Linked DNA regions of Homo sapiens: region 1 is linked to region 2. The links come from fine-mapping of genetic effects on gene expression. A gene starts in region 2. The other region holds a variant in brackets. All regions are shown on one strand. Distances are from middle to middle.

Region 1 (4,000 bases), 28 kb after region 2:
AAAAAAAAAACGTAACAAAACCCAGTGATTCTCAACAGGGCCCTCCAGGGAACATTTGGCAGTGTCTGGAAACATTTTTAGTTGTCACACATCGGGGTGGGGGTCCTCCTGGCATCAAGTAGGCAGAGGCCAGGGATGCTGTTCGACACCCTATAAAGTGCAGAGTGGCCCCCCACAACGAAGAATGACCAGCCCAAAATGTCAGCCAGGCCTCACCTGAGAAACCTTGCTTTAAAATGCAGAAGCCAAGAAAGAGAGCCTGGACAGTGCACTCCCCCTTAGAAACCGCAGTGCCAGGGACCACAGGCAGCACAGGAAAGCCAAAGCGTGAGTTAGGGAGATAAGCGGAGGGAGGAGAAATATCCTGTCATCTTTCTCACAGATAATAGGATTTAAACATCCCTCCCATTCCCTGCACAATTGTTGGTGAGCTTGTGGAAAAAACCCAGGACACCAAGTCAGAGAAACTTTGTCCCTGGACCTCACCTCCCTCATTGTAAAACACGAGGCCAGAATCTTTAAGGAAGGCACCTTCCAGGACTGGCATCCAGGCCTTCTTGGGGTCGGGGTCTCGGGGTTTCTTGCTTTAGTCCCTGCCCAGCTTCCCCAGCAGAGGTTTGCAGTTGGAGGGACATGGTCTGTGAGTGATCTCGTTGCTTAATTACACTGTCCCCGGGCAGTGCACACTGCTTTTCGTGATGAGCTCCTTCCTGTGGGCGTGTTTATTCAGTACTCTCTGGGTGCCAGGGATCTTGCCAGTGCCAGGTTCCAGCCCCGAGCACGCCCTCACTGAGCGCCTCTCCTCTGTGCGGCTACAGGTGCTGGAGGCATGCATGAAGAACTGTGGGAGGAGATTTCATAACGAAGTGGGGAAGTTCCGCTTTTTGAATGAGTTAATCAAAGTCGTCTCTCCAAAGGTCAGTCAGCGGCAGATTCCTCGCTTTTAGGGACTTCTTTTGTGTTCATTCCCATCTCCCATCATACTGGCTTTCACTGCCCATCCAACATCTCCAGGGAGCTGAGATTATTTGTGTCTTGTCCTTAGAGAGCTAGGCCCTGGAGGTAACGGGATGACCAAACAGGCCACAGGGACCGGCAGCTTTTTCTGAAGCGCCCTCAGCCCAAATCTGACAGGTGATGTGGTAGTGGCTGTGTGTTTGTCCAGGGTGAGGGCCCATGTAGTGTGGGACTCTAGGCACCTGGCACATGGCAGTTGTGGGTTTTGTGGGTTTTCTTGGCCTGTGTCACGTGGATACGGGGAGCTGGCCTCCGTCATTGCTCCGATGCTCAGCTGGCCGTGTTCTGTTGCACGCTGGTGTGGCGCAGCTCTGGGCCCCCACTTAAAGCAGAGGGAATACTTTACCATGCTAAAGACATTCTCATGGACACCCCCAAGATAAAATGCAGTTGTGTTTCTGGCAACTTGTGCGTGAAAATGCACTTTCCTCAGAACTCAAAATATCCACCCAACCATGGCCTGCACCACATGGGCATCAGGGTCACAAGGAAGCCT[C/G]TCTGTCTTGATGTCCCCAAGGTAGTAAGGAAAGGCAGAGAGCAGGGGTGAGCACCGAGGGCATGGTCTCTGGTGTCAGACTCAGGTTTCCATCCGGCCCTTACACCCTGGGCAAGTTAGATGATCCCAGGCGGCAAATGGGGACGCCACCCCTACTGACGTGGCTGCTGTGCAGATGAGTAAGGTCATGAATACACTTACAGGACACTTCCTGGACAGGAGGTGATGACCTCCTGGCCCCCTGCCTATCCACAGACTGTATCCAGATGGACACAGCCACACCACAGGGAGTCGTTCCCCTCCCCACGCTGTCTCACACACACTTGGACACCTGCAGATTTTGAGTAGGACCATAGCTGCTGAGCAGCCACGCCATTGCTGTGGAGGGAGCCTTACACTTTCTCTGCCTCCGAACTGCACTTACTAGGTCCTCATTTTCTTTTGCCATGTAGTACCTGGGGGACAGGGTGTCTGAGAAAGTGAAGACCAAGGTTATTGAGCTGCTGTACAGCTGGACCATGGCCCTGCCAGAAGAAGCAAAGATCAAAGACGCCTACCACATGCTGAAGAGACAGGGTACGTGTCTGCCTGCCCGCAGCCTCCAGGCAGCCCTCGAAGGCTGGCCCAGGCAAGGAGAGAAGGGAAGGTTTGGGATCCCCAGAGTCCCTCCTGAAGAGAACAGCATTTGTCCCCAGGCAAGGCTGAGTCGGAGTTGGATGGGATAAGGTGTAGCAGCCTGCCCTCCACCCTGCTACCCTTTGCAGGTCTTGATCACAGGGACGTGGCCCTTGGTGTATGAGGAGGGGTGACAAGGCAACCACAGCCTGAGTGCACGTGCTGCCATGTCCCCTTTCAGGCATAGTGCAGTCTGACCCACCAATTCCTGTGGATAGGACGCTGATCCCCTCTCCACCACCTCGTCCCAAAAACCCTGTTTTTGATGATGAGGAGAAGTCCAAGGTAAAGGACACCCTGGGCCTGGGATTTTCTCATACGAGAGTGGGTGGCAGCAGGGGAATGTGGTTTGCACTGTGCTGCGGGGAGCCTCTGGGGTTTCCCTGGGGTACGGGTGCTGCCTCTTCCCTTCACCTCTGATTTCCTCCTCTCTCAGCTTTTAGCCAAGCTGCTGAAAAGCAAAAACCCAGATGACCTGCAGGAGGCCAACAAGCTCATCAAGTCCATGGTGAAGGAAGTGAGTGGGCCCCGGTCCTTCAGGCACGGGGTGGAGGAGCCCATGGCCACACAGCAGAAGCCGCTTTGCCCCGGACACGGGCCTGTTTTGTTCTCCCCTGCTGCCAGCTGCCCTACCTGTGCCCCGGTGGCTGAGAGTGGGAGGAGGAGCACAATAGCTTCCGCGGGAGCACGGAAGAGAGGAGTGGGTTGGGAGCAGTGTTGTGAAAGCAGAAGTATAGACTGGGCCCCAGGCACCCCACACTGAAAGGAGCTTCCGAGCGTCTGTACTTGTGTTGTGGGGTAAGGTGTGACCTGGTGGAAGTGGAAAGACAGTCAAGTGACGCTCTCTTTCTCTTGAACTTCTTCACTGGGGCAGGACGAGGCACGGATCCAGAAGGTGACCAAGCGTCTGCACACGTTAGAGGAAGTTAACAACAACGTGAGACTGCTCAGTGAGATGCTGCTTCATTACAGCCAGGAGGACTCTTCGGACGGGGACAGAGAGCTGATGAAGGTGGGACCGCCGACGGCAAAGGCTGCCTCCCGGGGCTGCGCTGCCCTTCAGGAGCTCAGCCAGCATTTGCTGAGCACGTGCCTTGTCAGAGACACGGGCTGTGCACTTGGCAGTGTATTCATGACCTTACTCATCTGCACAGCAGCCACGTCAGTAGAGGGTGGCGTCCCCATTTGCCTCCTGGGATCAGCTGACTTGTCCAGGGTGTAAGGGCCAGATGGAAACCTGAGTCTGACTCCAGAGACCACACTCTCGGTGCTCACCCCTGCTCTCTCCCTTTCCTTACTACCTTGGGGACATCAAGACAGAGAGGCTTCCTTGTAACCCTGATGCCCATGTGGTGCAGGCCATGGTTGGGTGGATATTTTGAGTTCTGAGGAACATGCCAGCCTGGAAGGCAGGAGGGGACTGACTTCCCCTGACCCATCCTGGTGACTGCTACCTAGACAAACATCCTGGGTGATGTGGTGTGGTGGTGGTGGCTGGTGGCAAGAAGACGTGCGCTGTGATCCCAGCTTTGCTGGTAATTGACCGTGGCAATTGGCATATCCCGGTCATTTTCTGGGCATGAACCCTGAATGAATCAGATGATCTCTAAGGGCCTTTGTGGTTTGATTTTTATGTCCGAGTCTCTTTCAGGAGCTGTTTGATCAGTGTGAGAACAAGAGGCGGACTTTATTTAAACTCGCCAGTGAGACTGAGGACAATGATAACAGTTTGGGTGAGTGAAAGAGCGACGGTCAGGGATAAGCCAGGCATTTGGATATGTGGGTGGGAACTGTCACAACAGGAGTGAGAAG
Region 2 (4,508 bases):
GGGCATCCATATTTTCATCCCTTTCCTCTCCCCAGGTACGGAGATACAAGGGCCTCATGGACTGTGCCAAGCAGGTGCTGCAAAAGGAAGGCGCCCTGGGCTTCTTCAAGGGCCTGTCCCCCAGCTTGCTGAAGGCTGCCCTCTCCACAGGCTTCATGTTCTTCTCGTATGAATTCTTCTGTAATGTCTTCCACTGCATGAACAGGACAGCCAGCCAGCGCTGAGTGCAGGAAGGACCCCAGGTCTTCCCTGGAGGCAGCCTCCTGAAGGAAGGAAGATTCAGTCTCCACTGAGAGGTGCCGTCTGGCCCTTCCCTGCAGGCCAGCTGCCCCAAGCGGGGTAGCAGCCTTGAACCCACCCAGCTGGGACACCACCAGAAGGTCCAGGGCTCTCCCCATGAGAGAATCAGAGGGAATGCAGGACGTGGTCTATGGTGAGCCAACGACACAGTGAGAAGGAGCAGGAAGTTGCTGTTTCTCCTCTGACCAGCCCACACTCCAAAGGAAACAGACGCCATCCTACACCTATCAGCCCTGCCTGCCAGGAGAACAGAACACACTCCTGGTCTGGATGGGGCTGCTGCTTGAGTGCAGAGGGCTGCGGTAGGCCCTTTGCAGGAGTCAGGTCCCTACACTTGGCCTGTTTTTCCAACCTATTTAATAGACATTAAAGCTAAACACACATTCCTTATCTTACTCCATCTCCCCTGGCACATCTGCCTACTCACAAAGTATGAGGGAAAGGACTCCTGCCTTCCTCAAATCCCATGTTCTCCATAGCGGCAGCCCTTGGCAGCTCTGCTTCTAGTGCTGGGGGAGACTCCAGGCTGAGCCAGTCACTTTCTGGGCCCCGTGCCCAGACCTTCGTGTCTGCAGACACACCACCACCCAGGCTGTCCTCTCCCAGGACCGGGCTGGTCATGGCCGTGGGGCTCCATGGAAAGCAGATCCCAGCGCCCGTGCAGGAAGTGGATGGGCCATGCTGTGGGCAGGCGTGGGTGAAGGTGCAGCCTCTCCCCAGTCTACCTCACTGACTCCTCTTTCACCCAGAGCTGGGTCAGCCTTGCTGGGTGAGGAGCTATCAGCAGGACAGGTGGCATCAGCGCCCACTGCCTGCTCCTCAGTGCAGAGCATGCTGCGGGTGCATCCTCCCCTGTAGCCCCAGAAGGGCCGTGGCTCTGAAGCAGCCCACTGATGGGGATGGCAGAAGGAAGGGGCGGGCACGTAGCCTGGTGAGGGCACAGCTGGTGCCTGGGGTGTTACCAGAGCAGAGGGACACCCACAGGCGGAGAGGCAGAGGAGAAACCAGTTCCAGGCTGAGGGGAGGTCTCCAGAACATGACCTCCACCCTTCCCTCCATCTGCCCGGCCTGTAGGGTTGCTCCGACCTGGGAAGCCCTCCATTCTGCCTCCCTCTCCAGCCTTGGAAAGAGGCACCCACTGGGAGCCGGCGCTGGCCCTGGCCCTGGCGTGTGGGTCCTGGGCTCCTCCTCGCACCATCCTTCCCTGCCTCTGGTCTGGGATTTTGGGGTCTGTCTGGGCCCTGAATGCTGGGGCTTCCTGGCTCTGGGCTGCTGGTTCCCAAGGTCCAGGCTGCGGCGGGGGCCACGAGGATGCAGCTGCCTGAATGCATTTTTTATGAAATTCCGTTAAAGTTTCTTCTCTTCATCTTTCCTGCCCATTGGTTTCTTTTGCTGCAGCTGAGCGTTCTCTTCCTCCTCCGTTTTCGGTGACCACTTTGGCGGTTCTTTTAAAAGGAGGCGAGAACGCGGGCAGCGCCGGCAGCGCTCCTCCCGGTCGCGCGGCAGGAGCGGCGGCAGTTCTTCCCCCACTTCTAGGTGCCCTCCTGTCACCCAGGGCAGACGCCGGGCGGTGGGGTCCGCGCCACTTCAGGGGCATTCGCAACAACCGACGGCCGCGAGTTGCCAATGGGGCCCCTTTCTCGGGGCTGCCCCTATGACCTGAAACTCGCTTCGCCCATGTCCTCCTTGGAGCGGGAGAGGGTTGTGGCTGGCCCCGGCCCTGCAGCCCCTGCCTTCTCTACCTGGGTTGGGGGAGCGGGGAAAGTGGTGCGACCAGGGCTGATGCTGTTCCTCCTGCCACCAGGTCCCCACCACGCGCTCTGCAGGCTCTTCCCACGCCGCGCAGCCCAGCGGTGTCTCCCGGCCCAGTGCACCTGAGCTCCGGGGAGGGCTGGGTGCGGGGCCACGCGCAAGATCGAGGTGCCGGCGGGTCCGGCGTGGGCCCGGACACGGCCCAGGCGCACCGGGTGAAGGGGTGACGAGCCAAGCGAGTTCCGCTTGCGGCTGGGTGGCAGCGTCGCAGGGTCCCACGCAGGCGGCGCGGCTTCCGGGGCGGCCTGGAGGCCAGGGCAGTGCCCCGGGGGCCCGGCAGGTGGCGCGGGCGAGCCGACCCTTCCCCGGCGCCGCGCGAGGAGATGAGCTCACGGCGGGCCCCGCAGCGCCGGACGCTGGTTGCGCGCTCCCAGGCGCCGAGCGGCCCCGGGCACGCGCGCGCGCCACCGGCCCGGCAGGTGGGTCCCGGCTCCCACGCCGCCTCTCCCGCCCGCGGGACCCTGGGCCGTGGGCTCCGCAGCCCGCCCTGTGCCTCCGGGAGGGGCGTTCCGGGCGCGGGGGGAACGGCCGAGGGCTGGAGACCCTAAAGGCGCCTCCTACGGCCAGAGGGGAGCCTCCGGCGGGAGCCACCTCTCCGGGGCGCATCATCCTGCCCCCCAGTAAGAGGAAGGCTCCAGAATGGAGCTCAGGAATTAGGAGTCTCGAGTGCGTAGGGCCGGGTTACTGCCACTCGGGAGCCGATCCGACCAGCCTGTCCCAGGGAGAAGCTGGCACGGGTCTGGGGAGTTCAGGCTGCTCCCGGCAGGGGCGGCGGACAGGGCGCCTGCGTCCCCACCCACGCAGGCCGGCCCCATCCGGGGGATGCAGCGGCGGGTGTTGAGACCGAAGGACTCGGCGAAAGCCAGAAAGAGAGGGTTGGGGAGAGGGGCTCGGAGACCTGCTGGGGACAGAGTCGCACCGCTTGGAGTTCCCAGCCTGGCCCTCACCCGGCATCTTCCTGGGCCAGCAACGTCAGGCCGGTTTATTTAAGCAACTGTAACGTCCGCCCGCACACACCCTGCCCCAGTCTACTCCTGCCTCCTGCTGGGACTGGAGGGTGGGCGCTTTCCTGCTTCAGCTTCTCGCTCTTGTGTAATCCCACAAGCGAGGGATTTCTAAACTGAGCAGCAGGTGCCTGGCTGATGCCCAGTCCCCACCAGAAGCCAAGCCTGGTGGGCCTTCAGCCAACCACCGCACGCCACGGACCGCCCAGGAGTCCCTGTCCCGAGCGCGCCGTCAGCCCCGTCCAGGGCCTGCAGGACGGAACCCGCCCTGCGCTCCACACCTGAGGCCGCTCCCTTCGCCTCTTCTCCTCAGGTGCTGTCCTTATTCCCAGCCCAGTCAAGAGCTACCGGGGCTGGCTAGTCATGGGGGAGCCCAGTAGAGAGGAGTATAAAATCCAGTCCTTTGATGCAGAGACCCAGCAGCTGCTGAAGACAGCACTCAAAGGTGAGCACGGGACCCCTCCTGAGCTGGGGTCAGGAGCTACAGAGAAGGGCCCCTGTGGGCAGCACCAGAGGCTGAGCCTGGTGAATGCCTCCACCCCTCCCCTCATTCTCTGACGATAGGAGTCGGCAACGTAATTCTTGAACTGGAAGACAAGCTACATTGAGGCCATTATTTTGGAGTATGAATCACAGTCACCTCTCAGACTGTAAAGACTGTTTTAAAAGTTTAACCATAGGGCTAGGCGCAGTGGCTCATGTCTGTAGTTCCAGCACTTTGGAAAGCCAAGGTGGGCAGATTGCTTGAGTCCAGGAGTTCAAGACCAGTCCCGGAAACATGGTGTAAACCCCATCTCTACAAAAAAAAAAAAAAAAAGAAAGAAAAGAAAAATTAGCCGGGCATAGTGGCAGGCACCTGTGGTCCCAGCTACTTAAGATGCTGAGGTGGGAGGATTGATTGAGCCTGGGAGGGTGAGGGTGCCATGAGCCATGATCCTGCCACTGCACTCCAGCCTGGCTACAGAGCGAGACCCTGTCTCAAAAAAAAAAAAAAAAAAAAAAAAAAAAAAGTTTAACCATAAAAAAAAGAACACGGCTCCTGCCCTTGAAGCGCTTACATTTGAATTGCTGGTTTCTGTGCTGCCATAGCCCCGTCTCTTGAATGCACAGTTGCCTGCTTTGAGACAGAAGATGGAGAATATTCCGTTTGCCAGAGGAGCTATAGTAATTGCTCTCGCCTGATGCCTTCCCGCTGTAACACGCAGTACAGAGGTTTGTCTTCAACTAATAATTAGCAACACCCATCATGTGTCAAGCCGAGCCTGTTGGGAGGCCCTATGTGGCCCTCTCTTGTTGGGGGTTTGCATGTGTGTAGTATAAGAACACTTTTTCTTGTGAAATTGCTGTTGGAGGCATGTCCTGGTCAGTATTCCTTCCTCAACCTAGTGCCAG

Direction of the effects. Alleles are on the strand shown, and positions count from the first base shown. SD is a standard deviation of normalised expression in the study named.
In carriers of allele C in region 1, the expression in naive CD8 T cells of the gene that starts at base 2,376 in region 2 tends to be higher than with G alone (large effect, 1.7 SD a copy in Schmiedel 2018).

What was found. PIP is the estimated chance that this variant, and not a neighbour inherited with it, causes the effect.
Region 1: its variant is fine-mapped to the expression of MIF4GD-DT in naive CD8 T cells (Schmiedel 2018, PIP 0.95).

What each region holds. Positions count from the first base shown.
Region 1 is chr17:75,241,536-75,245,535 of GRCh38, reverse strand. GGA3 (golgi associated, gamma adaptin ear containing, ARF binding protein 3) reads left to right here. Exons shown (of 17, transcript NM_138619.4): 4 at 819-917; 5 at 1,966-2,089; 6 at 2,370-2,473; 7 at 2,625-2,705; 8 at 3,063-3,200; 9 at 3,840-3,921. Among named protein-coding and RNA genes, the nearest start is that of GGA3, 18 kb to the left of the region's middle. RefSeq lists an enhancer at 2,491-2,540. The variant C/G (reference allele first, on the strand shown) is at 1,514.
Region 2 is chr17:75,269,167-75,273,674 of GRCh38, reverse strand. It overlaps MIF4GD-DT (MIF4GD divergent transcript), which reads right to left and starts at 2,376. Exons shown (of 1, transcript NR_036520.1): 1 at 1-2,376. It overlaps MIF4GD (MIF4G domain containing), which reads left to right and starts at 2,444. Exons shown (of 6, transcript NM_001370592.1): 1 at 2,444-2,531; 2 at 3,430-3,561. The coding sequence starts at 3,480. It overlaps SLC25A19 (solute carrier family 25 member 19), which reads left to right. Exons shown (of 8, transcript NM_001126121.2): 8 at 36-683. The coding sequence ends at 224. RefSeq lists silencers at 1,018-1,067, 2,038-2,697, 2,808-2,877 and an enhancer at 742-1,529.